4 linked regions of the Homo sapiens genome follow. The protein of the gene in region 4 interacts with the protein of the main gene of each other region in a pairwise test. Each region holds a gene or a part of one and is shown on either strand. Other genes may lie near its edges. The genes, in order: CEP63, FUCA2, VWCE and NUFIP2.

Region 1 (7,549 bases), on a different chromosome or scaffold from region 4:
ATTCACAGACACCTTCAAGATTCTAATGAAAATTATGAACCTTCTCCCCAGAAAAATGCACAATGCACATTTTTTGCATTTAATATTATTATATTACTATTATTAACATTAATAAATGTTTTGCATTTAATATCAAGGAGTTTTAGACCTTCCCCTATCAACTACTGCCTTACGTTCTTTTTGTAAGAGGAGTGCAAAAGTTCTTCTGACTGGATGATTGTCAAATAATTGAACCTGGTCTTAATGGGCAACATAAAATTCCCAAATTCTAGTTCCTCACAGAGAGGGAAAAAAAAAAAGATGTGAATTGTATGTCTGAATTATCAAAATTGCACTGCGGAGAAATAGCTTTTACAAAAGATTGGTTTAAAGCAGTCTATCATCCCTCTAAATTTTCCCTTTTCAGGCCATGAGAGCTTTACGCAATCATGTTTGTGGCCCTCTCAGAACAGTTTCCTCTGAATTTGGATGTCAGCCTTATGCCATCAACCCACAGTGAAGCATACTGTGGGGGGAGCTGTGCAGATTATTATTACCAGTTATGAAAATGTTGGACTTCTCTTCTGGATACTCACATACTTTACAAAACGCTTATTCAAACACACAAAAAAAATCTGTGCTTTTCTTAAGTCTATGATTTTTTTTTTTTTTTATCTTATGGGCACCATAAAACTTTTAGGTAAATGTTTTCTCCTCTGCTTTTCCCCCTCTGAAGCTCAGAGGTAACTTGGCTGCCTTCCTCTAGCAACTGGACTGGACAACTAGATTCATTAGTGAATCAATGTTTACAGCCCTCATTTTCCCTCTGCCCCGATTCTGTTTGTTACTTTTTGATGCATTTATACTATTTCAAACTGTTTTGGGACAAGCTGACACATTTCTAACTTTTTCTACATTTCAGTGCTGTTCATGACAACTGTTTGCTTAACGTATGTTCTCATGCCATAGAGCTTATTTTATAATTATCTTTCTTATCTGCAACTTTTAGGTACTGGACTCGAGTGTTTTGCAAACAGAAAATCATCACCCACAGTTTACCAGGTGTTATGTGTATGTAAGAGAGAGAAGGTAAGAATTGTTTGGGTTTAAGCAGATGTCACAGAAACAGAGTGTTGTAGTATTTTTTCTACACTTGTTGAGATCAAATGAGTCTGCAAGGGAAGGTAATGTCCAGCCCACAGTGGGAAGTCAACTTTGCCCTCTTCAGCTAAAATCTGCGTAGGAATCCAGATGAAAATTCATGGGAATCCAGGACAAGAAGAATGAGATGACTTGCCCAATAAAACATTATCTGTAAACACCAGATGTAGACTACAAATCCCTAATCTTTTCATCTCATTTGGGTACCCTGATCACGGACAGATTTTGGAAAATGTGTGTTAAGACACTAACTCAGATTTAGTCTTGACACATTTTAATATTTGGTATTAATATATCTTTTTGAAAAATGGTGAGACATTAAATTACAGTCAAATGTTCTGACAAATTTGGACAACCCATTAACTATTAGATACTTCAGCTTTAAAAAACAGTATAATTTAAGGAAATACATAGTACCTCATGATTCCTTAAGTATTTCCGGTGACTACAGAGTCTGTCATTGTTCCTCCTAGTCAACACGTAGTACAAACGTTTCAGAAACGGGCTGCAGTCTACAGATTTTAAGCTGAAGCTTGGGACTGTCTAAAACTCAGAAATCTCCTGAATGTAACAGCAATGCACATAGGTACAGTACTTAAAACTGCAAAGCCCTTTCAAATATATATTTTCAGTAAATCTTCTCGACCCCATTAGATATTATTTCAGTTTTACTGATAAATACAATGAAGCCTTGAATGGTAGTGATTTTCATCCACCCAATATTTGCTTAGGATCTGTTATGTGTTAGGCAGCATGCTGACTGAGGATGTAGGCAGGACTTAGCCCCTGAAAGACAGAAATCAAAGCGGATAGCAAAGTCTGGTCAGAGCCACACACAGGGTGCCATGACAGCAATGAGGAGAAACGTTCCCTGACATGGGTCAGGGGATATGGGAAAGCTTTGCCAAGCCAGATAAAGTAGCCAAGTAAAGGGGGAGTTTTAGGAGCACATGACAGGGTGTGGGAAGAGGAGACAAACTGAAGGACAGCATGCACACCAACACAAAAGAAACGATGTGGTGCACCTCAGGAATGGCATTTTCCATTGGTTCAAACTAGCTGAGCCTCTCCTAAGTGTTGGGCTTGTGCTGGGTGATGAGGATCCCACCATGAACCAGAGAAGCAAAGTCCTTGCCCTCAAGGAGTTTTAATTCTAAAGACAGAAATAGACAGTACAAACATAAATCAAGTAATGAAATGATTTCAGATAGTAGTGAGCACTATGAAGCAAGTAACACAGGCCAATGAGCTAGAGAAATGGGGAGAAACAGGTTTGGGAGGCAGCAATCAAAGAAGGCTTGCTCAGGAGAGGATGCCAGAGTGCAGGTCTGCAAGGGGGAAAACGCCAATCAAAGGTGAGGTAAGAGAAAGGGAATATTCAGGGTAAACTGCAAATGAAAGACCCGAACAGGTTAAAGCTTGCTGCACTCAATAAACAGAAAGGACGCCAGCATGGGTGGAGCACAGTAAAGGATGATGCAATGGGTGATTAGGCCCAGATTATTGACACTCTGTAGGCTATACTAATTCATTTGGATTTTATTCTGAGTGCAGTAAGAAGCCTTGGGGCTGGGTGCAGTGGCTCACGCTTATAACCCAGCACTTTGGGAAGCTCAGGCGGGTGGATCACTTGAGGTCAGGAGTTCGAGATCAGCCTGACCAACATGGTGAAACCCTGTTCCTACTAAAAATACAAAAATTAGCTGGGCCTGGTGGCATGCGCCTGTAATCCCAGCTACTCGGGAAGCTAAGGCAGGAGAATCACTTGAGCCCGGGAGGTGGAGGTTGCAGAGAGCCGAGATCCTGCCACTGTACTGCAGCTTGGGCGACAGAGTGAGACTCTGTCTCAATAAAAAAAAAAAGAGAAGCCTTGGAAGAGTCTGAAGGGAAGCAGTGGTGACACTGTTTCATTTACATTTCTAAAGGATAACTCCAGAAGCTCCCTGAATTACTGGTGTGAGTACTATCAGTTAGGAGGCTACTGCCAGAATCAGGGTGAGAGAGAAGTAGTCTGGATCAGGTGGTAGAAGTGCAGGAGGGAAACGGTTGGGTCTGAGATAAGATTCTGGGGGAAGAAATGACAGGACCTCCCAAATGACTGGATATGCGGATGTGGGTAAGGAAGGAATTATAAGTAACTCCTAGGAACTGGCAAACATAATGCTATGTCCTGATATGGAATCTTAGCAAGAGGGAGAATAAAGAGTTCTCTCTTGGAAACAAGATGTTTGTCAGATATCCAAGTGAAGACATCGCATAAGCAGCTAGGTATCTAAGACAGCAGCTCTGGGGAGAGGTCAAGATTAGTAATAAATGTAAGGGTCACTGGCCTATAGGTGGTATTAAGAGCTTGAGAATGGAATGGAAACTTCTAGGGAAGAGAATGCTGAGGGAGAAAACCCATGACAGAGCTCTAGGGGGCCCTCTGACTTAGAGGTTAGAAGAGGAAAAGCCATGAGATGGAGTGGAGGATGAGGTAGAGAGGAAACCAGAAGTTCCAGGTCACAGAAGCCAAGAGAGAGTCCAACTGTGCTGAATGATGCTCAGACACTGATTAGGTCACTGGTGAACTCAAGAGCAAGAAAGCAGTCTGGGGATGGAAGTGGTGTTGGAGAGGGTTAGGAAGAGAACTACGGTGGGGCGGGGTGAGGAACTGGAAAGAGTCACTGCAGACAACTCTTTCCAGAAGTGTTTGGGTGAAGGGAAGCAAACATACAGAGCAGTAAAAGAGAGGCATTAAAAAAAACTGAGGTTTTATTTAAAAAGGGGAAATAACAGGATGTTTTACGCTGATGGGAAAGATCCACTACAGAAAGAGGGTTCACAGAGGCCACACCCTTGAGCTGGCAAGTACACTACACTGACCTTTCTCATCTGTAACTGCACATTCTAGTTCCTTTGCTAGATCTATTTCCTGTGATCCTCAGATGCTGGCATCTTTCAGGGCCCCAAACCCAGCCTCCTGCTCCTCTCTCTCTCCACAGCCTCCCTGGTGGATCTTATCAACTCCCATCGTTTCAAATGCCTGCGGCACATCAACATCCAGATCTTTGTCTCCCATCTAAACTTGTCCTCAGCAGTGCAGACGATGAACATTTATTTCCAATGGATATTCCATGGGCACCGTGCATGACAGCCAGTCCCTTGCCCTCCCTGCCTCTCTCCTCTGCATGAGTGTTGAGCAAGAGAGGACTGCTTGATAAGGTTCTTTAGCACACCCCCCCCTTATTCACTACCAGCCTGACTTTACACACTACCAGCCCCTTGGCTAGGAGGGGCTACCAGCCCAGTAAATAACAAGCCCCGTTGGCTGGTAAGTGGCAAAACCAGTCTATCGATCCAGGTATGTTTGACCCCTAAATCCATGCTTCTACACATTTCCCCTAAAGAAAGTTCCTGCAGTTACTTTATTTTCAACATGTATCATAAAATCCTTATTTCAATTAGTACATAGCTATTCACATTTAAGTCAGCAAGGTAAGTATCACTTTATGATAATAAATATTCGTATGAGAAAAAAGTCTAGCAAAGTGGTTTATTCTTTCAACTTATTGCTGGAAGAAGTCCTTTAAACAAACCAGTGCAGAGAAAATGCCTATCAAAAGTATCAGTTTTTCAGCTTTCTTCACCACTGCTTTAGATGTATCATTTTTATAATTTTATCTCTTCATGTTTTTAAAGAGCTGCTACTTCAGATGACAGTAACTCTTTGGTGTTTATTTTTATTTCCAAGATAGTGATTTTTTTAAGAGGCTACTTTAAGGCTGTGAATTGTCTCACTGTCTTTTCACTCTCTCTTTTTAGTTCTTCAATATGGGCATCCAAGCGCTCTAGAATGTGATGAGACCTCAGTTCCTCCTCTTCCAAAAATCTGGTAGCTATTGAACCAAGGGGAGATACAGGCAAGGAACACTGGAAGAGACACAAATTTTGACATGTGTAAATAAGTAGAATATTATATTTCTAAGATACACTGTTCATGACATTTTCTAACTAGCAATATTAAAAGGTGATTTTTTTCCTCTGAAGATACTTTTTTGGTTTTCATCCTAATGACAAGAGCAATAAAAGAACAAAAATCAGTAAGTTCTGCAAAAATTAACACAGATCTCTCCGTTTCTGACCCAAATTGTAACAATGTAAAGTATCATATATTAGTTATTGGTCTGAAGAATGTTTCAATTTAGACTTATATATGCTTCCATAGTTAATGCCTATTATTTCAAACTCACTTTAAAAACCTAAGTATGTCACTTTTATTTTAAAGCACAAAAATTTAACAAAAATAAATTAGATGCCAGCTAAAATCAATTATTTTTTCTCCTCCAAATTTTCAGTCCACAGTCCCTTATCTGAAACCCTTGAGGCTAGTGATATTTCAGAATTCTGATTTTAGAAAGGTAACATAGAACATATGCCATATGCAGTCAATACTCATTCACAATAGCAGTAGTTGTGTTCTATAAAGTCACCCAAAACACTGAATTAGCAAACACAGAATTTTTGGCCCAGGGAAAATACACACATACAACAAATACACACACACACACATACACACATACCCCACACAGAGAGCATAATCCTAAATCCTAGAACAAATCATTCTGGTAGATTCTGTATTTTTTATTTCACATGAGAGACATGAGGTTCAGAAGTGGTAACTCTCCTGAGGCTGCCCCACTAACTGGTGCTGAAGCTGGGATTCAGACTCTATCCAGCTGGCATGGAGCTGAGCTTCTTTCCCTACACTGCGCTGTCCCGTCCATCTCCACCCTATGGTCACCTCCGCATAAGCAGGGGCAACAAGGCAGAGTGCTGCCTACTTCGACCTTGGCTGGGATTGTGCAAGTCGGTCACTCAAATTTTTTGTCACTCTGCATATGTCCACGAATTACTGTGGAAGTGCTGCGCATACTGATTTGGGAGTTACAGATAAAGTTTAGGGAGTAGACAAATTCACAAATACAAAATCTGTGAATAATGAGGATCAACTGTATTACCCCAGTGGAGTCTGAGGGAACATCCCATCACCAAACACACTGATATTTCTGAAGCAAAACACATGGATACTCACACTAAGTGGAATAGAGAAAGTCTATACATACTAACACATCAGTTCAGGCCAGGGAAAGTTCTGGTGCCAAAAAAATTTTGCTGCTAAACTTAGGAAGAAAGTGAAGTGAGGACTTATTTTGAAAAATAAAAGAAAACCTTTCCATGGACTTGGTAGCACATTAATAAGTCAGAAATACTGCACTTTCACATCTATATGGCCACAGCTGGTGACAGGAAATGAAGGGCCCATGGCAAGTGCTTTGGTGCAGAAGGCAAAAAGATGGTGCAGCCTGCCCAGCAATGGAAGGAGCAAGGGACCGGCATGGTGTCCAAGGCACATTCTGCCCTGAGGGCCACCATCTGTGACCCCCAAGCCATGCTCTGCACACATCAGAGGCACAGCCTTCCTCCCCCTCCACACTCCCTTTCTCCTTTCCAGCAGTTCCTCTTTTCCTCCTTCACTGCCTGTGCCTCAGGACTATCTTGGCATCCAGAGACAGTTCTTGAACTAACCATTCCAGAAGAAAATTGAGCATCACTGAAAAGGGCAAGAAGGGAATTTCCAATAAGGGTTAAAGACAAATGAATACGTATAACATATTTCAGAACATTTTGAAAAGTAGTCTTGGCCGAAAGTGTCTTCACAAGCAAAAACTGTATGACAGGGATACCTAAGAATAATGAAGAGTACTTATGATAAAAGAATCAGTAAGGAAAAAAAAATCACCTTCTTCACCCTTAAAATAAAAAATCAAAGCAAACTTAAAAAACTAACAAATTACTAAGATCAGAAAGTTTCCATACCGAAGATATAAACTCTTCTTGGTCATTCATACTCTCAGACATAGTGTCAGAAAAATTGGCTTCATTTGTATCTAGCGCTGAAGGCAAAGAATGAGTTTTACATAGAGAGTAGGAAGTCAAAGACCTGGTGGAGCTGCAAGGGCTGATTTGAGGACTCAGGGGGCTTAGCACCCTAGACATGGGGTTTATACTATCCGACGCTTGTCCTCTTGGAGAATGAAGATCTGTTTTGTAGTGCTCAGTCTTTATTCCATCATGTCTGTGCTGGCCATGGGTTGGCCTGGATGGTAGATTAGAAAACAAAACAAATAAAAAATTGTAGCAACTTTTCTCTTTCCAACAGAAATGTAGGAAATTTGCTTAATAGCCTAACTAATAAGGCTACAATTTACAAAATGAGCAACCTACTCAGATCAGAAAGAGATTTCTTTCATTCATTCAGGCCCCAAATATCCAATTCCAACTACCAAGTCCCTGCCCTCACACACTTATGGTATAGCAAGAAAGACAAACAAGCTGCCAGAGTAATCTAGTGTGGTTAGTGCTGGGA
Region 2 (9,016 bases), on a different chromosome or scaffold from region 4:
CCAACATATTTCCTGCACCTGCTTGTGCTCACCTTTGCCAGTCCCTCCTTGGTTCCTCCCTTGCTGTCTCCTCCCCTGTGCCCCTGCTGGCATGCCTGCTGTGATGAGCTCAGCCTGAGGCTTCTCATGTTGCTTTGGTTTTGGGGTTTATTTTAGCATCTCCTCTTGATACCTCCACCTCTCCCCTCTTCTCTTGTCTTTATTCATTATTCTCGCTTATTGTTTGTCTTTGTGTTTTAGTTTCTTTTTTATTCTAATTTTGGGACACTCTTGGTTTTGAATTTCTTTGTGTTTGAATCTTTTTTTCCCCCCCAGCTCCATTCTCTGATGTCCTTTCTCTCTCTCTCTTTTTCCCTCCCTCCCTTCCTCTTTCTTTCTTTTTCTTCCTTCCTTCCTTTCTTCCTCTCTCTCTTCTCCCTTCCTTCCCTCCCTCCCTTCTTTCCTTTCTCTTTCTTTCTTTCCTTTCTTTCTTTTTTCTTTCCTTCTTTCCTTCTCCTTCCTTCCTTCCTTCCTTCCTTCTCTCTCTCTCTCTCTCTTTCTTTTCCTTCCTTCTTTTCTTTTCTTTCTTTTTTTCTTTCATCTCCTTTCTCCCTCTTGCCCAGCCCTATCTCAGTTCTGTCAGTTCCTTCTTTCTTTTTTTGCTTCCTCTTCCTCTTGAGGACCTGACCTCTTCCCTCCCACTTCTAACCAGGGCTGTGAAAACTCCGCCTTCTCTTCCAACTGGTGCAGCCCAGGGGACACTGTCTCCCTCAGCCATAAGGGCCACTGGAAAGGAGACTCAATGTGTGACTGAGACCTCATCTCCCTGAATTAGGCCTCCGTGCACAGCCACTCATTAGATCATTCATTTTTCCCGGAAGACATTGGGAAGGACGGAAGTAGAAGGCAAATGTGTCATGTGTTCTGATGCTTAGCTGCATACTAGGATCATTAAATTACCTGCCACTGACAACCCTGGTGCAGAGAAAAAGTGGCAATTTGTTCTTGTTTCTAGTCACCCTACTTGCCTCAGCAGACAGCATGCTCCTGTCCCCCATGCACACACTGGGTGGTTGGTGATCAAATTTAATTATTCTACCTGCATTAAACATAGTCAAATCTTGTCAATTAAACAGCATCTTCAGCAAATATGTAGGCTGTTCTTTGGGTAACAACGCTCAATATTGCAGATGCCTCCCCCTCCCCTGCTTCTCTCTAAGGTGGCATGGAGTAGGGGCGGGGTTCTCCAGCTTCTGGGAAGGAACACGCCGTCCCTGCCTTCTCTGGTCCTGGAGTGCTGACACCCGTTCTTTCACTGTTCCCAGATGAAGCCTGAAGCTGCTCTAATTCAAGATCTGGTCTGTATCGGGCTCCTGCCCCCACCACTCAGTTTCCACAGACAGGCAAGAGTCCTCTGAGGAATGGCTGTGAACCCCAGGTCCTTGGCACAGGAGGCCCTGCCACAGAGAACCACTCAGGACAGATTTCCAGTTAGGTTCTTGGCTACTTCTGGGTCCTGTTTGTGTCACTCGAATATCAAGGTCACCCCAGGAAAGGTAAAAAGCAGCCTCTCCATCTGTCTAACATGGCTGTACCTTGCTACACTTGCCAGTTAGCCTGAGTCCTAATCAGGACATTTCTGTCCTGATTCTCATTTAGGACTTCAGGTTAAATGGGAATCAGGACAAAATCTCTGCTTTCTGTAGGCTCCCCTGAATTGATCTAACACACACATGGTAATACTGGTCCACACGTAGACGAGGCTTAACATGTACTTCTCATGATTTAATTCTCACAACACCCCTAGGAGGGAGATGCACGATTATCACTCACATTTAATAGGTGAAGAAACTGAGGCACAGAGGTTGAACGCCTTCCCCAGGATTACACAGCCCTATGGCAGAGGCTGGCGTGGGGCCACAGCCTGGCAGCTCTCCCCTCTCTGCTGACACCCCGGGGCCTCCTCCCTTTATTCCTCTCTGCTTCTCTTCCCTGCCCCCTGGCCTGAAAAAGGCGGGTTTTCTTTTATTTCCCCCATGCCTGCTCTTCTACCGTGAAGCTGGGATATTTACCAAATAAAGACTGGTTTGGGTTCAGTTCCTTTTGAACCTTTTCTTCTGCATGTCCAGAGAGAGACTGCATTGATGCCAGCTGCCAGGCAAATGTTTCACTTCTTCCACTGTCCACTTCAGAAGAATTCTGGGGACTGCCAAGACTGGCTGGTGGCAGTCATCCAACTCCCATATGGAGATCTATCCAGAATGTGTCCTCGAGAGCCTCGCTCAGATATCAGCTCCACCTCGGCAGCTAATCTTATCCCTGTGGACACACATGGCAAGACTGCTTCCTCTGGCAGCAGCAAGGAATTTGGCTAGGGCTGGCCTCTCACCATCTCCCGCCTGGGCACCCTGAGTATCAGCAGCTGCCCAACATGCGGCTGCTGGCCGTGATGGTTCCAGAAGGGAGGCACGCCCTTCTGTCTTCATCTTGTACCCCAAGTAACCTCAGACAAACAGGATCAGAGTTGACAGTGTTCCCCATCAAGGCCACAAGCCCTTCAAATGCCTTATACATGAGCCATGTGTACCTGCAGAACCCAGGGTTTCACTCAGATTTCTGGATCCCCTATCAAAACCTTTAAATACACAGTTTAAGCCTTATGAGGTGTGATTCTATTGCTCAGTTAGCAGTAGCTTTAAGTGCAAAGACTAGCTTTGTAAGGCATTACAAACGTATAAAATGTGAATGGAATCTACAGCAGGCAGGTCTTTCCCTAAAGGACCATGTTCTAAACGACTTCATAGATTTATTTCTTTCAGTCATTTAACAAATATTTTTAAGTAGAATCTCTTCTTCCTCTTCACTTTCAGATAATACTATTTACTATTCCTTTCAAATCCTATAGCAATGGTTCCCAACCTGGTATATTAGGATTCTTATGTGTCCTGAAGGGCACTAAGGGAGGTCTTTAATATATTTTCAGTATTTCTTACAGAAAATAGACTTTTATGATAAGGTTGTACTTACCAGTTAAAAACATTTCTTTGCCTTCAAGTGAAATGACAAATGACCCAAGTGGCATCCATACAGATCTGATTACCACTCTTTAACTGAAATATATGGAAGTGTAAATAATTCATAACATGATAAAAGGGCTTTGGAAGATGGGCGTTTCTGCTATGTGGTGTTCACATGGGGAAAGGATGCCCACTTATGAGAGGACAGGGTCCTGCTGCCGCTGCATTGTCACCACAGTCATGTCTACTCTCCCTATGGCAGTTCACAGTATCATTGTCACTGTGAATATTGTCTTTTGCACTTATTACACAAACTTCTGATTAGAGAGGATGTCAAGGCATAGTGGCTGAGAAGCCCATATTTTTGTTCAAGTGTGCCCCAGGGTTCAGTGGCCACTGAGGCCCTAGATCATTCTGGGTTCCACAAACTCAATAATAAATATTTGTCAGCCCAGGCACCGTGGCTCATGCCTGTAATCCCAGCACTTTGAGAGGCTGAGGCAGGAGGATGACTTGAGATCAGGGGTTCAAAACCAGCCTTGCCAACATGGTGAAAATACAAAAGTTAGCTGGAGGTTGGGGTCTGTAATCCCAGCTACTCGGGAGGCTGAGACACGATAATTGCTTGAATCCCCGGGGGTGGAGGTGGCAGTGAGTCAACACTGTGCCACTGCACTCCAGCCTGGGCAACAGAACCAGACTCTGTCTCAAATAAAAAAAAATTGTCATCTTTATCACAAACTGGAGCTATTGCAATTGGATTCGTTGAGCCCTTTCCTCTAGAACACCCTCACTGTAAAAAAACAAAACAAAATTGGGGACTCTTACGGTGGAGCTGTGGCCCCGGGGGGCCATCTGGCATGTCATGGAGAGGAAAAATGCCCCTACACCTGCAGTGACAGCGCCCTCTGCTGCTCCCATCTCTCTGCAGAGATGGGTTGGGATAATGCAGGCAACAGCCACTTAGTGTCAAGTTCTTCACTCAATAATTAGAACCCCAGTTCACTGGAGAGCTTCAACAAACATTTTGAGTGCTGCTTTTCTGCTGTAATTGTAGGCACTACAGAAAAGAAGGTCATTATGAATGCCCTCAAAAAGCTCACAGTCTGATGGGAAATCAGACCTGTACCACCTAGCTACTAGAGGATGCGTGAAATCCTATGTGTGCTTGGAAGGAGGTGTTATGAAGCAGATCAGGGAAAGTACAACATTCTGGGAGGGAAGGGTGGTGGCAGAAAGCTTCACAAAAGAAGCAGCATTTGAATTGGCTCATTGAAGGGTAATGATTTCATGGGGGCAGAAGCAGTTGAGGATTCTGGCTTTACTTTGAAAACACTTACGAGGTGGAGGAGAGGCTGGGCTTGGTGGCTCATGCCTGTAATTCTAGCACTTTGGGAGGCCAAGGCGGGCAGATCACCTGAGGTCAAGAGTTTGAGACCAGCTTGTCCAACATGGTGAAACCCTGTCTCTACTAAAAAAGAAAAGAAAAATACAAAAATTAGTCTGGCACAGTGGCATGTGCCTGTAGTCCCAGCTACTCTGGAGGCTGAGGCAGGAGAATCCTTGAACCCGGGAGGCAGAGGCTGCAGTGAGCCTAGATCATGTTACTGCACTCAAGCCTGGGCGAGAGAGCGAGACTCTGTCTCAAAAACAAACAAACAAACAAACAAACAAACAAACAAACAAACCAAACAAGAGGTGGAGGTGATAAGCTTCCCAAATATCCTTTTGATTAATCTTTCCAAGTTGCTGGCCTTTTTTCCCAAGCTTGCAGGTTTCTTAAACATTCATTCCACTGGTTTCACCTGTCTCAGATCATCTCCTTGTTCAATGCAGTGGTTCTCAGGAAAGTTTGGACCACCAATCAGAAACATCACAATTTTGTTTTCTTTCTTTTTTTTTTTTTTTTTGAGATGGAGTCTCACTCTGTAGCCCAGGCTGGAGTGCAGTGGCACCGTCTCTGCTCACTGTAACTGCCTCCCGGGTTCAAGCGATTCTCCTGCCTCAGCCTCCCGAGTAACTGGGACTACAGGCGTCCGCCACCACGTCCCGCTAATTTTTTGTATTTTTAGTAGGGACGGGGTTTCACCGTGTTAGTCAGGATGGTCTCGATCTTCTGACCTTGTGATCCGCCCGCCTCGGCCTCCCAAAGTGTTGGGATTACAGGAGTGAGCCACCGCGCCCGGCCCAACATCAGAACATCCTAGAAGTAGGAACTGGGTAGAAACGCAAATTCTTGGGCCCCAACCTAACTGCTGAATCTGAAGCTCTTGGAATTTCATCTGATACAAATTCAAGGTTGACAACCACGGTTCTAACATGCAGGATCTTGGGAGCTGATACAGAGGCCGAGAAGGATCTAGGTTGCTTTCCATGTTCCATCATGGCGAGACCCGGCTGAAGTTCCTGCCTTGACCTTCTCGTGCACGCTTCGGACGTGTGGAGCAGCCACCAGGGTGGGCTGGGGGCATTGTCTTCTTGGGCAGTTTCTTGGTCAGGGTCGTGTCTGCTTGAGGGCAGAGGCGCTGGCCACAAGGCCCTGACTCAGACTCATATTTTCCCCTCAAGAGGACAGAGCCTTAGCAAAGCCGTCCCAGCTGGCTTTGGGGTAATGCTGGCCTTAGTTATGCTGAGCGATGCAGCCCTCCTGAGGTCATTCGGAACGCCCGGGAGAGTGGCCACTCCCGCCCCAGAGGGGGAAGGGTGGCCGGTTTCCAAGTCCGACTTGGTCAGGTGACCGCGGCGCGGCATACTCAGCGGCAGAGACGGAAGAACAGCGCTCCCGAGGCCGCGGGAGCCTGCAGAGAGGACAGCCGGCCTGCGCCGGGACATGCGGCCCCAGGAGCTCCCCAGGCTCGCGTTCCCGTTGCTGCTGTTGCTGTTGCTGCTGCTGCCGCCGCCGCCGTGCCCTGCCCACAGCGCCACGCGCTTCGACCCCACCTGGGAGTCCCTGGACGCCCGCCAGCTGCCCGCGTGGTTTGACCAGGCCAAGTTCGGCATCTTCATCCACTGGGGAGTGTTTTCCGTGCCCAGCTTCGGTAGCGAGTGGTTCTGGTGAGTGCGCTCCCTTTTGTCTCGTCTGCCGCGCTTTTGTCCCCACCCGCAGCCTCCAGCCACCACCCAGCGGGCCTGGTTCGCCGCCTGGTGCTGCCTGCACCCTCGTCGGTTTCACCTCCCACTGCGTTACCCGCGTTTCGCACTTCCGGGTGTCGAATATGTGGTTTCCTGCCTAAGTGCTTCTGCTGGATGAACAGGGAATTTTTCTTCCGTGTGACTGTAAGAGTTTTCAGATACTCCTGACTCCTCAGCTTCTTCATAGTTGCGCATATTAAGCTGTAGTTATGACACTACAACATCGAGCTACTACAGACATTCATCAGTTTGTGCAGGGGCATCACACGAGCGGTGACTCAGGCACAATGGCCTATGGTTGCTCTGCTGCTACCTGCCAATTTACAGTCGTTCTGCCATGAAGTTATGGTTAAAACATAGTCATGAGTATGTGAAACGACTGTTCATTGAACACCATTGGCTACTTAATGTTAACATGTTACCCATGTGTGGCTCTAGGAACTTTTTAAAGAGGTTCTAGAATGGTACTCTTAACACAACCCAGTTATCATACTGCCGTATGAAAGGTGCTACACAAAAATCTGTGCGTTAGATTTTACCTTGAGATCTATGTGAAAATGTGCATGTAATTTCTTAAACTGTTGCACATGTCTTTTCTGACTAAATGCTACAAGTATTAAGTCCTTCAAAACAGAAATATTTTGTGTGCATATATAGAAACATACACATAATATATTCTTTTTTTTTTTTTTTTGAGACATAGTCTCATTCTGTCACCCAGGCTGGAGTGCAGTGGCACCATCTCGGCTCACTGCAACCTTCGCCGCCCGGGTTCAAACGATTCTCGCGCCTTAGCCTCCTGAGTAGCTGGGACTACAGGCGCACGCCACCATGCCTGGCCAATTTTTTTGTATTTTTTAGTAGAAACGGGGTTTTGCCATGTTAGCCAGGCTGGTCTTGAACTCCTGACCTCAGGTGATCCGCGGTGGCTCATACCTGTAATTCCAGGACTTTGGGACACATAATATATTCTTAAGTAAAAGAACGGAATCATTAAACAGTATTTATTTGAATCAACTATATACTACATAAATAGTATACATCCAAATTAACATACTATATTTAGTAGACACAATACAGAGTATGAACTATATATTATATTAACATTACATAGTATACATGGTACCATGCTCTACTCTAGGGGTAGAAAAATTACACCTCCATTCTGTTAGGGTCTCTGCTGGGTCCAAGAATTAAATTGACATTGTGTGACTAAATTATGTGGGGAGACTTAAATAATAAATTTTAGCAAGTTCTGTACAGTATTCTACTTCTTGTCTTTGAAGCTTAGGATGTTGCCTTTCCTTCTAGTACAGAGTGCCTTTCATACTGGAATTTCATCTTCTCTCCTAAGAAACAGCACAAAGGGCAAAGTGCTCTTCATGCACCTGCTATTTTTCGAGTTTCTTTACCTTTAAAAATGTGCCAAAATAGCATATTTTAACCCTTTCATGACAAAGAAATTGACTACCTGCAACCAGTAACCTTTCTTATTGGTAGGTCAATTGATGTAAAAAATAAAACTGGATAAGCTATGGAGAATTATTCATATTTTAAATAATTCACCTTCTAAAACAGAGACTCTTTATTCTTATGCCAAAACATAGCTACTTCAAAAAGATGTTACAAATCTTTATTTGCATGTTTTGGGCTGTAAGGAATCTTGAGCTTGTTTTGGAAATATTTTAGATTAGTGTGGTACATAATTAACAACTTTCTTCCCCCTAAATTGTATCTTATATTATCATTTTGTTCAACCATGAAGATTAGGTAAAGATATATTGGTGCCAAAGAGGATTTGACATTTTTGACTGAGACTAGTACTATGCCAAAATAAAACAGCTAGTTTTGAGTCATTTTATTCTTTGCTATGAATAACTTCATTTTCTACAGATAAACCCATGGTTATTTTGACCTAGAATAATAAAGATACTTCTCATACTAAACAAAATAGAGAACAGATTCCTGATGATCTGAAAATGCATTAACCCTGTGGAAGATTCTTTAATTACCTGTGATTTCCCTTTGTATCCTCTGCTCCTCACTCTCAATTTGACTTTCGGGGAATCAACAGTATAGATGAGTATATGTGACTGTTTTAAATGTCTATTAAAAACCAAATATAAATGATAGACCTTTACCATAAATGCCTCTTTTCATCTCTCAGCATGAAATTCAAGTCTAGACTGTAGGGGACAGTGCAGGTTCAAATTAGATGATGCTAGGAGAAATTCCTTATTCTTGTTCAACTTTCTGAATGTCCCAGTTTCTCTTTTGCAGTTCAATTTAAAATGTAATGCCCGTAGTCCCAGATACTCAGGAGGGTGAGGTGGGACGATCGCTTGAGCCCAGGAGTTCAAGGCTGTGGTGTGGTATGATCATGACACTGCACTCCAAACTGGGTAATGGAGCAAGACCCTGTCTCAACCAATCAATTAATCAATAATAAATAAATAAATAATAAAAATGCTTCAAGGATTTTAAACCCAACTAAAAGGTATAATGATAGGGGCTTGTTATCTCACATAACAGGAAATTTAGAGTAGTCGGTTCATTGATGAAATCAAAGACACGGGCTCTTTCTTTCATCCTCAGCCTGGGGACTTGTCCCTTCATGGTCACAGGATGGCAGCCAGGCACCATAACTTCACACAACCCTGCCCAAAGGCAGGAAGGCCAGTGTCTCTTTTCATTAGGAGGGAAACCATTTCCACAGTCCCCAAAGTTGGCTTTCCCTCAAGTTCCCTTGGCCAGCATGGATCTCACATCCCTGTCGCAGCTGTAGTGGAAGCTGGGAAATTACGTAAATACGACTTTTGGGCAGGCAAACAGCATGCCTGCCGCATAGTATGCCCTTCAATTATTTCTTCTTAGCAGAGTCTCCTGAT
Region 3 (7,605 bases), on a different chromosome or scaffold from region 4:
CCCAACTCTACTAAAAATACAAAAAATTAGTCAGGTGTGGTGGCGGGCACCTGTAATCCCAGATACTCAGGAGGCTGAGGCAGGAGAGCCGCTTGAACCCAGGAGGCAGAGGTTGCAGTGAGCCAAGACCTTGCCATTGCACTCTAGCCTGGGCAACAAGAGCGAAACTCCATCTCAAAAAAGAAACTGCTGGTCTGTCATTTCGTCTCAGAGGTTCCTTCCCAGAAGCAAGTCCTCTCCATCATCTTTTCCCTTCTCACTGTGGAAGCCCCCCAGTGTCTGTATGGTATTCCATGGTGTACATACTATGCAGCCATAAAAAAGAATGAGATAATGTCCTTTGCAGGAACATGAATGGAGCTGGAGGCCATCATCCTTAGCAAAGTTACGCAGGAAGAGAAAACCAAATACCGCATGTTCTCATTTGTAAGTGGGAGCTAAATGATGAGAACACATGGACACATAGACACGAAAAGCACACACTGGGGTCTATGGAAGGGTGGAGGGAGGGTAGAGGGAGAGACTTAGGAAAAATAACTAATGGGTACTAAGCTTAATCCCTGGGTGATGAAATAATATAATCTGTATGACAAACCCCTGTGACACGAGTTTAACTATATAATAAACCTGCACATGTACCCCTGAACTTAAAATAAAAGTGAAAAAAAGAAAAAAGAAAACAGAAAAGAAAATCATGATCTTGGGGAAAAAAATAAAAAGAAGTCTCCCAATATAAAAGGCCGCCAAGTGCTTACAGGAGACCCTTCCCCAGCCCAGTCACAATTTGGTGCCAGCTTTTCTCCCCAGCAGTGGGGTAAAGGTGGATGCTCACTTACCACCTGTGGGCTTGGGGTCACGTTTCCCACCTTCCCACAGGTAAGCGGTGAATGAGCAGTGCAGCATGGGGAAACCGAGACAACCTTTAATCAGGAAACCTCAGAGAGACGCATGACACCTGGCGGTACAGTCCCAGTGAGTGGAATCCCAGCCGGACGCAACTCTTCCTCCAGGAGAACTTGGCAGTCCCAACCCTTCTCAAAAGATGAGCCAGCCACGCGGTCCAGGGAGGATGCTGACAGTGGAAACGACTTCCTCCATTCTTACAGCACATTCCAAACACTTCTTGGGAACAAGGTTACATCCAGCCTTGGGGGTCTTCCATCCTCACCAGGGCCCCTGCAGGAGGGAGCCCAGGCATCCCCACCAGGTTCATCCTTGGAGCTGCCCTGCACACACCCTGGGCCACTGGCAGAGGTCCTCTCTCCAGAGTCTCCCGGACACAGTGACCTCCTTACATGGTGGACTCTTCCCCCCGAGAAGCCCCCACTGGGGGCTGCTGGGGGCCAGGGTGGGTGGTGGCTGCAAGGGCTGTGGAGAGTCTAGAGGTGGTGGGAGAAAGCACGCGAGGCCCGAGGAGGGTGATGGGGGTCTTCGAGGGGCTGGGGTCCATCATGGAAAGTGCTGAAGCTTCCGTCAGGAGGGTGCCAGGCAGAGGAGGCCACCTGGACACTATCTGGGCCCCAGAGGCTGAGAACGAGCGCTCTGGAGTCACAGGAGGTGGCTGAGGAGCCCCTGGGGAAGCTAGAGGTAGAGTGGGGGCTCCTGGAGGGGTCGAAGGCCCTGGTGAGAGTCGAGGGGAGGCCCCAGGCTCCCCTGGGAAAGTGGCTGTCAGCCCCAAAGCGAGTGAGTGTGGACCATGAGCTCCTGCCGGGCTTGTAGGTAAAGTCTGTGTTTTCATCAAGTTCGTTCTTAAAAGGAGCTGGAGGAGATGAAGCACCGGCCTCGAGGGTGATGCTGTCGGGGGCCCAGGACAGGAGCTACAGTTGACAGGGGCCTCAGTGTCTCCATGCAGGCTCCGACCAGCTTTGCTGAATGCCACATTTCCGTGAGGGGAGAGCCCCTGCTTTTCTTCCAGAGGAGACAGGGAATCTAGAGAGACGAGGGTGAAACGAGATGCACAATGGCTCTCTCCAGTGGCCAAGGTGGCTCTGGGACAAGGTATACCAGGGACACCCAAGCTCTGTCCTCAGAGGGGCCTCAGCACACCTGGTGAGGACCAGCCAGCTCCTGCCTCCAGGAAGGGAAGACTGAAGGAGCCATGAACGGAGGGAGGCAGGCAGTTAGCTGTGTGACCTCACGCAAGGCATGCAACTCTCCTGGGCCTCTGTTTCCTCATCTGTAAAATGGGCACAGCAGTAAGGACTGAGTGTGAATGAAAGGGTGCACGGAGAGTCTCAGCCTAAACCTCAATGTGAACTATAGACATTGGATGTCAATGACATGTCAGTGTCAGTGTAGGATCACCGATTATAACAAACATGCCACGCTGGTATGGGGTGCTAATAGGGGGCAACGCTGTATCATGTGGAGTCTGAGGCATATGGGAACTCTCTGTACTTTCCACTCAATTTTGCCATGATCATCAAACTGCTCTAAAAAATAGTTTCTTTGAAGAATTTTTTAAAAAGTCTCAGCCTAGGGCCTGGCATATCATAAAGGCTCAGTACACAAGGAGAAAATAAACACAGATGCTCCTTGACTTACGATGGGGTCACGTCCCAATAAACCTGTAAATCAAAAATGCATTTCTGACCAAGCGCAGTGGCTCACGCCTGTAATCCCAACACTTTGAGAAGCCGAGGCGGCGGATCACCTGAGGTCAGGAGTTCAAAACCAGCCTGGTCAACATGGTGAAACCCCATCTCTACTAAAAATACAAAACTTAACCGGACGTGGTGGCGCGTGCCTGTAGTCCCAGCTACTCGGGAGGCTGAGGCGCGAGAATCACTTGAACCCAGGTGGCAGAGGTTGCAGTGAGCTGAGATCGTGCCACTGCACTCCAGCCTGGGAGACAGAGCAGGACTCCGTTTCACCAAAATTTAAAAAAAGGCTTTTTTTTGGGGTGGGGGGGACAGGTTCTCACTCACTTGTCCAGGCTGGAGTGCAGTGGTGCAAACATGGCTCACTGTACCCTCAACCTCCTGGGCTCAAGCGATCCTCCCATCTCGGCTGTCCTACTTGCTGGGGCCACAGTCACATGCTACCACACCTGGCATTCTGTTCTGTTCTGTTCTGTTCTGTTCTATTTTATTTTTGTAGAGACAGGATCCTACTTTGTTACCCAGGCTGGTCTCAAACTCCTGAGCTCAAGTGATCCTCCTGCCTTAGCCTCCCAAAGTGCCGGGGTTATAAGTGTGATCCACGGTGCCCAGCAAAAATGCATTTAATACAGCTCACTTCCTGAACACCACAGCTTACCCTGGCTGACCTTACACGTGTTCAGAACCCTTATACTGGCCCACAGTTGGGCAAAATCATCTAAGTAAATCCCTATTTTTTAATAAAGTGCTGAATATCCATGTGTCACATATTGATAACCCAGGAAAAGATCAAAATTCAAAATACAAAATACAGCAAAATTTTGATGGTTTCACATCATTGTAAAGTCAAAAAATCATTAAGATAAACCACCAGAAAGTCAGGAATCATCTGTGAAAGAAGGAAGAAGCTCAGCAAAAAGAAAATGAAGAGTGAAGAAGCAAAAAAAGAAAAAGTATCGGCCCAGGCGCAGTGGCTCATGCCCATAATCCCAGCATTTTGGGAGGCCATGGTGGACAGATCACTTGAGGTCAGGAGCTTGAGACCATCCTGGCCAACATGGTGAAACTCCATCTCTACTAAAAATACAAAAATTAGCAAGGTATGGTGGTGCCTGTAGTCCAGCCACTTGGTAGGCTGAGGCAGGAGAGTTGCTGGAAACCGGGAGGTGGAGGTTGCAGTGAGCCAAGATCATGCCACTGCACTCCAGCCTGGACAACAGAGAGAGACTCCATCTCAAAAAAAAAAAAGAAGAAAGAGTATCGAAGGTATGATCAAGGAAAAATCAGACGTTGTCAAGCACATAAAAAACTGGAATGATTATATTTTAAAAATCAACTATTCATATTAATAGATGGTTGCGTAACTCTAAAAATATGCTTAAAATGACTGAATCATACACTTTAAATGTGTGAATTGTATGACATATGAACTTTATCTTTAGAAAGCTGTTATACTTTTAAAAAAATCATCAAAAGAGGCTGGGCTCAGTGGCTCATGCCTGTAATCTCAACAGTTTGGGAGGCCAAGGCGGGACGATTGCTTGAGTCCAGGAGTTGGGACCAGCCTGGGCAACATAGCAAGACCTTGTCTCTAAAAAAAAAAAAGTAAAAAAATTAACCAAGTGTTTATCACTTCATGGGCTTGGAAATAAAACAAAAATAGAAACAAAAAATTAGCCAGGCAGGGTGGCATGCACCTGTAGTCCCAGCTACCTGTGAGACTGAAGTAGGAGGATTGCTTGAGCCCAGGGGTCGAGGCTGCAGTGAGCTGTGATCGCACCACTGCACTCCAGCCTGGGCAACAGAGTGAGACCCTGTCTCAAAAAAAAAAAAAAATCATCAAAAGAAAGCAATTCATATTCTACTTCAATAAAAAGTTGTTTTTCCTTAAAGGGAGCTCTTGTTAATAAGAGGTAGGTGGTAAACATAGTGTGCTTCAGGAGAAGGAGCTGGGCTCTGGAGGTTACCTCTTGGTTTTTGTTTTTGTTTGAGACAGAGTCTTGCTCTGTTGCCCAGGCTGGAGGGCAGGGCGCAGTCTCAGCTCACTGCAACCTCCATCTCCCAGGTTCAAGCAATTCTCCTGCCTCAGCCTCCCAAATAGCTGAGATTACAGGTGTGCACCAACATGCCCGGCTAATTTTTCTATTTTTAGTAGAGACAGGGTTTCACCATGTTGGACAGGCTGGTCTCAAACTCCTGGCCTCAGGCGATCCACCCACATCAGCCTCCCAAAGTGCTGGGATTACAGGCGTGAGCCACCACGCCAGACCTGGAGGTCACCTCTTTGGGTCTCAGTTTCCCCAGGTGGAGGTAGGAGGGCACGGTGGGAAAGAGGACAGGATAGGAAATAAGAGAGACCTAGGCTTAAGTCTTACACACCAACTAGAAACTTAACTTCTTTGAGCCTCCATTTCCCCACCTGCAAAATGGAGATAACATAGCAGCCACGCTGGAACACTCCATGAACATTTAAATGAGGTAATACATTTAAATAAGGTATAAAATGCTCAGTATGCTGCCTGGCACATTAGCTAGCAATCAGTCTCTAGACAGTCAGGGGACTAATATCCACTAGCATGCAGAGAGGTTTGTGGTGGTTACAATGAAGTACAATCTATAATGTCCCCAACATGATGGATTTGAAGGCTCAATGGATATTCCTGGCGCCACCCGCCCTAAAAGCTCATCATCCACAGATCTGAAGAGCTGCCCCCGAAAACAGAACATACTCTTCAAAAGGTCAAAGGAGTTAAACAAATATTTTATAAAAAAGGGAATTCAGGCCACCATCAGTGAAAAAAATTCCCTGTCTTCCTAGAAGTTTAAAAAACATAAAATAGATCCAGCAATCCCACTGCTGAGTATTTATCCAAAAGATTTAAAGTCAGTTTGGGGAAGAGAGCTGCAGTCCTGTGTTCACTGTGACACTATTCACAATAGCCAAGCTATGGAACCAACCTAAGCATCCATCAATAGTACTTCATTGTGTGCATATACCACATTTCTTTATCCAGAATGGAATACTATTTAGCCTTTTAAAAGAAGGAAATTACAGGCTCACGCCTGTAATCCCAGTGCCTTGGGAGGCCGAGGTGGGTGGATCACTTGAGGTCAGAAGTTCGAGAACAGCCTGACGAACATGGCGAAACCTTGTCTCTACTAAAAATACAAAAATTAGCCGGGCATGGTGGTGTGCGCCTATAATCCCAGCTACTCAGGAGGCTGAGGCAAGAGAACCACTTGAACCTGGGAGGCAAAGGTTGCAGTGAGCTGAGATCGCGCCACTGCACTCCAGCCTGGGTGACAGAGTGAGAATCCTCAAAAAAAAAAAAAAAAGGAAATTCTGTCATTTGCAACAACATGGATGAAACTGGAGGACATTATGCTAAGCGAAATAAGCCAGACACACAAAGACAACTATTGCAAAATCTCAGTTTTATGTGGAATCTAAAAAGGTTGAAGCCAAAGAAGCAGAGAATAGAATCGTGGTTACGAAGGCTGGCAGGGGCGAGGGGAATGGGGAGATGATTGTCAAAGGGTACACAATCTCAGCTAGACAGGAGAAATATGTGTTGTGTTGTGTTTTGTGTTGTTTAGAGACAGTGTCTCTCTGTGGCCCAGGCTGGAGTTCAGTGGCGTCAGTTCTTGGGAATCAATCCACTGTCCTATCTAAAAGCATCGACTCCAGTCTGAAACCCTGGCTCTACTACCAATCAGCTATGTGATCTTGAGCACAGCACTTCACCTGCCTGGGCCTGTTTTCTCACCTGGCACAGGAGGATGACAAGAGTATTGCAGGGGTGTAGACACATGAGGTGTCCCGGCACACCGTGGGTGCTCAACACATATTAGAGATTACTCTTCTGCAAAACGGACTCAGTTCCCATGTTGTAATTTAAAATAAAGAAGAAAGCATAGGAAGAGGTTAAGAAAGGGGATAAAGAAGAAAAAGGGAGTGCAGGCCGGGCGCAGTGGCTCACGCCTGTAATCCCAGCACTTTGGGAGGCTGAGGCGGGCGGATCACGAGGTGAGGAGATCGAGACCATCCTGGCTAACACGGTGAAACCCCATCTCTACTAAAAATACAAAAAAATTAGCCAGGCGTAGTGGCAGGCACCTGTAGTCCCAGCTACTCCGGAGGCTGAGGCAGGAGAATGGCGTGAACCCGGGAGGCGGAGCTTGCAGTGAGGTGAGATAGCGCCATTGCACTCCAGCCTGGGTGACAGAGGGAGACTCAGTCTCAAAAAAAAAAAAAAAAAAAAAAAAAAGCAGAAGAAGAAGAAAAAGGGAGTGCAAATAAACAGACATCATGGTGTGTGGCATCATGAGCACGGGATGAGGGTCAGCAGGCCACAGCACAGCTGTACAACCTTGCGCGAGCCGTGTTCCCTCTCTGAACATGGCTTTCTCTTATCCAGCCCTTTACAAGTTCTATGTACCGGGGAAGAAAAGTAAAATGGAAGAAGATGGCGGAGAAACTCCAGGACCCAGAGACCCACTTACCTGGACAGGAAGAGCAGCAGTCCCCAGGAAGCAGGGCAGGGTCGGCACAGGCCCGCTGGCAGGGAACCTTCTCACAGCTCACCTCTCCCAGCTGGGGAAGCAGAAGGAACCCCATGAGGAAGCCCAGAGCATCTTGCCTGCCCTGGGCAGTGCCCTCAAGGGCCTCTTGCACCAGCAGCAGGACCCACGGAAAGATCCCAGGACAGAGGCTGCAGTGCCTGAGCCCTCGCCTGGAGAACAGGTAAAGCCAGCTATGGCAGGACCCCCTTTGGGAAACCACTTCTCCCTCTGGACTTCCACAGAGGGAGGAGATGGTCAAAACCAAAGATATTCTGGCAGTTAATTAAAGGCGGAGGATGGCAGGAGGATGGATTTATGCTGGCTAAAGGGCTCCATGTTTTGCAAAGGGACAAAAGGCAAGAAGCTGCCCTCTGGCGGGGCCGCTCCTGGGTTCCCAGGCCCAGCTCACCTGGCACGTGCACCGGGTGCAGGGTTCATCATC
Region 4 (8,074 bases):
TTTACCTTCAAAGAGCAGAGCTGGAGAATAAGTGAAATCAGGTAAATGTTATCTGTGAGGATTCCTAAACTTCCATTAAGCAATTCTACTACTTCCATTTTTAAGGAAGTAAAATGATATTAAAAGGACATCTATTTATTATACTCAATGTCTTCCAGCTTGCAGATAAGGAAACGTATGCAGACTAGGAAATTTGCTTAGAAGTCACAAATCACTTTGTTATTCATCCCTGAGGCAGTATTTCTTCCAGAGAGAATATGGTAATTACCCAATTCCCACAATCTGGTATGGTCCCCTTTCCCTGCAATTGTAAGTCACTGCCTAAATGAGCCACTGTTAAAATGGGAATGTGCACTATGTATTAAGTGTGTACATGCATGCATGGAGCATACATTTCTGTTAGAGAAAGGAGGAAGAGGTAGGAAAGATGGGAAGACTGAAACCCACTGTTCTCAAAAGCAAAAGGATATAAACATCATCGTTAAACCTCATTATTTGCTCTAAGGATTTAGATTACAGTTATGCCATACAGCGAATTTTTCTTTAAGACACAAACAAACCACATTCTAAGAAAGTGATTAACATGAGGCCTGGCACGGTGGCTCACACCTGTAATCCCAGCACTTTGGGAGACCCAGGTGGGTGGATCACCTGAGGTCAGGAGTTTGAGACCAGCCTGGCCAACACGGTGAAACCTCATCTCTACTAAAAATATAAAAATTAGCCAGGCGTGGTGGTGGGCACCTGTAATCCCAGCTACGTGGGAGGCTGAGGCAGGAGAATCACTTGAACCCGGGAGGCGGAGGTTGCAGTGAGTCAAGATTGCGCCACTGCACTCCAGCCTGGGTGACAAGAGTAAGACTCCATCTCAAAAAAAAAAAAAAAAAAAAAGAAAAAAAAGAAAAGAAAGTTATTAGCGTGAAACTTGAAAGATACCTGGTTCCCTTTAAACTTGGGCTTTAGGGCTATGAAAAGGAGAATCCCAAGAGCCTGGTCTCAACTATGCTAATCATACTTGACACTGTGATTTGTCTAACTTATTTTCCAGTTACAAACTGGCATCCATTACTCCAAGACTTATCAGTCTCCTCTTCAAAAACAGTGCTTCTACTCATTTTAATCAAATTAGAACTATTAAATGAGCTCACTATTAAAGACGCATATGATATAAAAAGCAAAGGAGAGGCTGGGCACGGTGGCTCACACCTGTAATCACAGCACTTTGGGAAGCAGAGGCGGGCGGATCACGAGGTCAGAAGTTTGAGATCAGCCTGGCCAACACGGGGAAACCCGTGTCTACTGAAAATACAAAAATTAGCTGGGCGTGGTGGCGCATGGCTGTAATCCCAGCTACTCGGGAGGCTGAGGCAGGAGAATCACCTGAACCCAAGAGGCGGAGGTTGCAGTGAGCCAAGATCACACCACTGCACTCCAGCCTGGGTGAGAGAGTGAGACTCTGTCTCAAAAACAAATAAGCAAATGGGTGTGGTGGCTCACACCTGTAATCCCAGCACTTTGGGAGGCCGTGGGTGGATCACAAGGTCAAGAGGTCAAGACCATCCTGGCCAACATGGTGAAACCCCGTCTCTACTAAAAATACAAAAATTAGCCGGGCATGGTGGTGCGTGCCTGTAATCTCAGCTACTCAGGAGGCTGAGGCAGGAGAATCACTTGAACCTGGGAGGTGGAGGTTGCAGTGGGCCGGGATTACGCCACTGCACTCCAGCCTGGCAAGAGAGTGAGACTCCATCTCAAAGAAAAAAAACACAAAACAAAACAAAAAAGCAAAGACAAAAAAGCCACGGAAGGAGAACATATGTTCAATAAAATTTTTTTTCAAGCACTCAGTCAAGAGAAAATATAACATCAATACCTTTAAGCAAGTTCTCCTCACTTCTGTTCTTTGAACCAGGTAGGTCAATTATGTTTGTATTTTTAAAAATCCTTTTAAGTTGGAAAAGTGAACATTTCTTCTAAATTTTAATCATACTAGTTCCAAGGACCCTGAATTAGTTTGACACCAGCTGCTTATCCACATTGTCATTCTCTTAAAATACTCTTAATATGAACAACTAATTCTCTTAAAATTCTCTTAATATAAACAATATACTAAATTGGCCAATAAAAATCTTTGTATAGGAAACAAATGAGTTACCTTTAGTGTGATATACAATAGCAGCCCTCAGGTCAAAAGAACCCCAGCTATCATTCCTTTCTAGGCCTCTCTGGTATCTCTGTTCTTTGGCAGAGCCTAACAAAGTGTTCGTAGGAGAGGCCAGAGGATTTTGACTTTCTATCTCGTAGTCCTTTGAGAGAAACACTAAAGCACCTTGACTACTGGTGTCTGCTTTCTGCAGGTCACCTATATGACTGGGTTCCAAGGATAAGGCTCCACTCTCACTAGTAGTCCCAGATTTTAGAATGCTACCCAGAACTTGAGGACTAGTCCGTTTCTCCAGCTCGTAAGCCTTGGGAAACACAGGATGCTCAGTTCCTGAGGGAATTATTTCAGCACCCTGTGAAACCAAAGTAGCAGGATATTCTCCTTGAAATGTCACCTCCATCACTTTATGCTCTGATGACTTCCCAGTAACAGTCTCAGGGCCAGCACTGGGCTCATTTATAAATGATAAACCCCACTGATTCTGGAAGATATCCCCCAGGTTTTGCTGATCTGTCTGAGAGGGCAGATCCACTTGTGCTGTGCTCAACAGCATAGTTTGCATATTTGAAGGATAGATAAAAAGGCTAGTCTTAATTTGTTCAACAGCTGCTGAAGTTAGACTCATGTCCTGGAGAACTGAATCTGTCCCAGAAGAGATGGGTGTTAGAGTATTAGCAGCAGTAGTTAGCAGTGGCTGACCCCCTGGAGGATAAACATTTCCATCAGTCCCTGCTAAAACAGGCCCATTAGAAAAGTTGGCAGAAGTAACAGATTTCAGCGCTGACATAGGGACCTGGGATAAGCGACTTGATGATTGGGTCTGAGTTTCCCCGGTAGATGATGAAGATGATGAAGATGAAGTTGGTGACACAGAAGAGTTCTGTATAGTTTTGTTGAGGTTTTCCTTAACTTTGCTTGCATAACTTATTTTAGGAACTATTTTAGCACTGCTATTGTCCACTGGAAAAACTGGGGGTGGTTTAAATAGGGTCCACGAGTCCTCTTTGGAGGCAACAGCTGAAGCATGCTTTCCTTTGGGCCGATCATCAAACTTTTTGCTGCTCACACCAGGTTTACTATCTGAGCTTTTCCGAAGCATATCACCCACAGCAGGTTTTCCTCGACTTGTTCCTCCAGGCCCAGTTTCATACTTCCAAATGGGCTTCGAACCATCTACTCGATTTCCCTTTTGTTCACTATAGTCAGGCTTGAAAGTTTCAAGTCCCTGTTTTAAGGTTGGGACACTGGTCTCTTGTTGCATTATTTTGTCCTGCACTATATTAAGGTTTTCACAACCCTTGGCACTATTGCGCCTAGCTTTCCTTTTTTTAGGAGTTGTATATCCGCTCTCAGATCCACTACCATCATTATCTGCTCCTTTACCCATATAACCATTAGTAATATAACCAGAATTATTTGTTACCACACCATTTGGAATTGGTATAGTATCAGACTTATCTACAGACTGATTCTCTCCAGATTTATTTTCATAAGACTTCCCATTCTTTTTGTCCATACTGTTTTTCTGAATGAAATTCTTGGTTTTAATTCCTGCTTTCCCAAAGGTGTTGGCCTTTACAGTCTGCTTCAGGCTAGTGTCTACAACTTGCTGGTTGCCATTGAGGACCCTGGAAATAGGGTTGGTGGCTTCATCAGAACTCAGGTTCTTTAAAGATATTTCTCTTTCTCCAGCATTACCGTTTAGTTCACCATAGCCTAGGGGAGGGGAAAAAAAGGATTAAAAAAAAAAATCACAACATGTAAATTACACTAATACCTAACATTTAAGAACTATTTACTGTATGCTAGACACTATGCTATGAGCTGTAGCTTTATATTATTTCACATCTCTATGAGAAGACACCTGTCAGCCCCATTTTACAGACTAGGAAATGCAACCTACTGCTAAGCAAAGCAAGAGGTAGAACTCAGCGAAGATTCAAACCAAAGTCTGAGGCCAGAGAAGACAAGACCTCTTAAGCAGTATGCCAAATACCTCTCATCTAACAGAATCAATCTACCCATCACTCTCACAAGGCTGTTATAAAATTTTCTTTTTTCAAGACGGAGTCTCACTCTGTCGCCCAGGCTGGAGTGCAGTGGCGCTATCTCCGCTCACTGTAAGCTCCACCTCCCGGGCTCACGCCATTCTCCTGCCTCAGCCTCCAGAGTAGCTGGGACTACAGGCGCCCACCACCACGCTCGGCTAATTCTTTTTGTATTTTTAGTAGAGACAGGATTTCACCATGTTAGCCAGGATGGTCTCGATCTCCTGACCTTGTGATCCGCCCGTCTCGGCCTCCCGAAGTGCTAGGATTACAGGCGTGAGCCACACGCCCGGCCTAAAATTTTCTTTACAATTCAGAGCAGAGATGCCCTCTGGGCAAAAATCAAGTTTTATTGAAACAGTAATTATTACAAGGAAATTAAAGACTTCATTTCTACAAAACCATAAATAGCTGGTAGTCACTATCAGCAGTTTCCAAGGCATCTATCAGACAAATATCTAACACTTGTCAACTTTTTCTAAAGTATTCTTAAATTTCATTTTGACATTTCCCAGATATTGGATATTGTTAATACGTGAAACCAAAATATCTACGTACCAATGTTTCCAACCTTTATAAAACATACTTTCTTCATTTTACATTTAGATAAAAAGACTTTAAGAGAGATGAAGTAAATTGCCCAAGTCAAAGTGACAGAACTGGAAATCTGACCGCCAGTCTATCTGCAATCCATGGTTTCCTATCACTATGTAATACTGCCTTGACTCAAAAGATGCAATGAGAAAATATTTACTAACAAAACAACAATAAAAAGAATCCAATTTTTTAGTGTTATGGTATTCAGGTTTAATTAAAAGTCTTCAACTGCCAGTGGATCATGTCTGTAAACATAGCACTTTGGGAGGGCCAAGGCAGGCAGACTGCTGGAGTTCAAGACCAGCCTGGGCAACATGGAGAAACCCTGTCTCTACTACAAATACAAAAATTAGCTGGGCGTGGGGCATGTGCCTATACTCCCAGCTGGGGGAGCTGAGGGAGGAGGATAGCTTGAACCCAGGAGGTCGAGGCTGCAGTGAACATGCACTGAGATGGCACAACTGCCTTCTAGCTTGAGTGACAAAGTGAGACCCTCTTTCAAGAAGAAAAGAAAAAAAAACCTTCAACTACCATAAAAAGTCAATTCTATTATAGGTGATTCAAATAGTTTTCCACTGTAACAAAATGGTGCTATTAGTTATCTACCTTTTTATGAAATGTTCATAAAAGCATCTTGAGGTCAAGTCATTAGAAACAGATATACAGGCCGGGTGCAGTGGCTAATGCCTATAATCCCAGCACTTTGGGAGGCCAAGGTGGGTGGATCATTTGAGGTCAGGAGTTCAGGACCAGCCTGACCAACATGGTGAAACCCCGTCTCTACTAAAAATACAAAATTGGCCAGGCATGGTGGTGCACGCCTGTAATCCCAGCTACTTGGGAGGCTGAGGCAGGAGAATGGCTTGAATCCGGGAGGCAGAGGTTGCAGTGAGCCCACATTGGGCCACTGCACCCCAGCCTGGGCAACAAGAGCAAAATTCCACTTCCAAAAAAAAGAAAAAAGAAAGATACACAATAGAAGGACACTCCACACACATTTAAGGCAGCAGGAAGTGAGGAGTCTAATAGGAATACTGCCATTTTTATAAGTCTGAGAACCATTGTTCCAAAATAAATTAATGGAGAAGTCTATTAGATTCACAACAGGACTTACTCATTCTACATTAGAAAAAAAAGTACAAATACTAAAACTGAACAAATAAAGGCATTTTCTTCTCCTGTATTAAAGTAACCCAAGAAAACATACTCAAGGCATAATCATTCCTAAAACAGACTGGCACAAAACTTGTACCACGAGAGAATACATCTTATAACAGTTATTTTTTTTCTTTTTTTGAGACAGATTCTCGCTCTGTGGCCCAGGTTGAAGTGCAGTGATGTGATCCCAGCTCACCACAACCTCCGCCTCCCAGATTCTCCTGACTCAGCCTCCAGAGTAGCTGGGATTACAGGCATGCACCACGATGCCCAGTTCCGCCACGTTGGCCTGGCTGGTTTCGAACTCCTGACCTCAAGTGATCTGCCCGCCTGGGCCTCCCAAAGTGCTGGGATTACAGGTGAGAGCCACCACACCGGCCTCTTAGATTTCTTAGAACTCTTAAGAGTTCTTAGATTCCACAGGGTTACATTTTTAAAAATTTTTTGGCTGCTGGAAAAGCTATGATAGCCAATCAAATCAAATTTTTGGTGGCACAATTTTAACTATGAAACAGCAAGAAAGAGATTATTGCTTAGGATGTTTTCTAAAAGCTTTTTTCCTCAGAAAAATCCCAGGCACAGTGGCTCACATCTGTAATCCCAGCACTTTAGGATCCCAGGCAGGTGGATCACTTGAGGTCAGGAGTTTGAGACCAGTCCGGCCAACATGGTGAAGTCCTATCTCTACTAAAAAAAAGAAAAAAAAAATCAGCTGGGCATGGTAGCATATGCCTGTAATCCCAGCTGAGACAGGAGATTCGCTTGAATCCAGGAGGCAGAGGTTGCAGTGAGCCGAGATCATGCCACTGCACTGCACTCCAGCCTGGGCCACAGAGTAAGGCTGTGTCTCAAAAAAAAAAAAAAGAAAGAAAGAAAGAAAGAAAGAAAAGCATAAAGTTCCTAAATAAAGGCTCTTCTCATCATTTTTAACAGATATAACTTTATCTCCTTACCTAACTCTGGATAAGACCTACCTGTATCATTTAATATGCTAACAGGTTAAACAAAGGTTTGTATCCTTGGGCCCATTAGTCACAACTTTTCAGATTTCAATTAAAGATGAGCAATCTGAAATAGCAAAAAATCCAATCTCCAAACTGAGCTGAACCAAAGCTAACAAGAATAATTCTTCCTAAGATTACTAGTATGTAGCGACTCAGATACTGGAAATCACCAAACAATGAAAAAACGGCTTAGAAGCCACTGTGCTCCCGCCCGCAAGTTTTAATAACAAAAAAAAAAAAAAAAAAGAAAAGAAAATCTTGTTTAACTACATAAAGTTTTTCTCATGACAACCTTGTGATATGTATGAAGTATGCTGGAAAGAAATTTTCTTTTTAAATAGTAGATATTTAAGAAAAATGTAAACATTATAGAATAAATTTAAGAAATTAAAGGATTCCTAGCGCTTTATTTAGGGCTGCTTATACTAACCCTACTTCCAAAAGACTCAGCAAAACTTGAGTCCTGATACATCTAGCTTTTCAATTAGAAACAAATTACTCAACACATTTGGCCTTCTCTTGCGCCCTCTTCTGGATTAAAAAAAACTGTTCCTCTTTAGGTTTGTGAGCAATGGATTACCAAAGCCTACCTCAACATGTTACAGATAAATTTCAAAAATATTGTAATGTTTTCTTAGTTATTAGCATTATGCATGTCAAAGCAACAGTACTGTGACCAAATCATACACTCGCCCCAAACTGTTTACATTCTGTCAAAACTGCTAATTCCAGTTTCCTCCTCTTTATCCACCCCTTCCAAGACAAGAAATATTTGGAGGAATACCACCTTGAATGGTTCAGCGGTTGCTTCCACATGTAGAGAGAAGTCTGGCAAGAGTATATTAACCTGACCGATGAGATACAATTTTTCAATCTCAACAGTAATATTGCCTTATGCAGCCATAATATGGTAGTATTTTCTCATCTTTTGAACAAGATCTAATGCTAAAAAATCTAGTTATATAGTCCCTAACAGTTTTTAAACTGTTCCAAATCTTTAGGATTAAAACACCTAACTCGTGCGTATGTGTTCACTTCTATTGCATACTATCGGGTCCCTACGAAGTCCCAAAATGGAAAATCTGACATTCTAATTTCAGTCT

What was found.
Region 1: the proteins of NUFIP2 (region 4) and CEP63 interact in binary tests that used the Homo sapiens proteins (3 or more experiments, as listed by UniProt).
Region 2: the proteins of NUFIP2 (region 4) and FUCA2 interact in binary tests that used the Homo sapiens proteins (3 or more experiments, as listed by UniProt).
Region 3: the proteins of NUFIP2 (region 4) and VWCE interact in binary tests that used the Homo sapiens proteins (3 or more experiments, as listed by UniProt).

Annotation. Positions count from the first base shown.
Region 1 is NC_000003.12:134,558,880-134,566,428, reverse strand, and holds the end of CEP63 (centrosomal protein of 63 kDa), read right to left. Parts: intron 7,280-7,549; coding exon 7,000-7,279; intron 5,053-6,999; coding exon 4,894-5,052; 3' UTR 1,398-4,893; downstream 1-1,397. UniProt on the Homo sapiens protein: Required for normal spindle assembly.
Region 2 is NC_000006.12:143,508,445-143,517,460, reverse strand, and holds the start of FUCA2 (plasma alpha-L-fucosidase precursor), read left to right. Parts: upstream 1-5,740; 5' UTR 5,741-5,826; coding exon 5,827-6,050; intron 6,051-9,016. UniProt on the Homo sapiens protein: Alpha-L-fucosidase is responsible for hydrolyzing the alpha-1,6-linked fucose joined to the reducing-end N-acetylglucosamine of the carbohydrate moieties of glycoproteins.
Region 3 is NC_000011.10:61,257,384-61,264,988, forward strand, and holds the end of VWCE (von Willebrand factor C and EGF domain-containing protein precursor), read right to left. Parts: coding exon 7,573-7,605; intron 7,195-7,572; coding exon 7,104-7,194; intron 1,930-7,103; coding exon 1,292-1,929; 3' UTR 903-1,291; downstream 1-902.
Region 4 is NC_000017.11:29,283,837-29,291,910, forward strand, and holds part of NUFIP2 (FMR1-interacting protein NUFIP2), read right to left. Parts: intron 7,199-8,074; exon of another isoform or gene 6,942-7,198; intron 3,881-6,941; coding exon 2,156-3,880; intron 1-2,155. UniProt on the Homo sapiens protein: Binds RNA.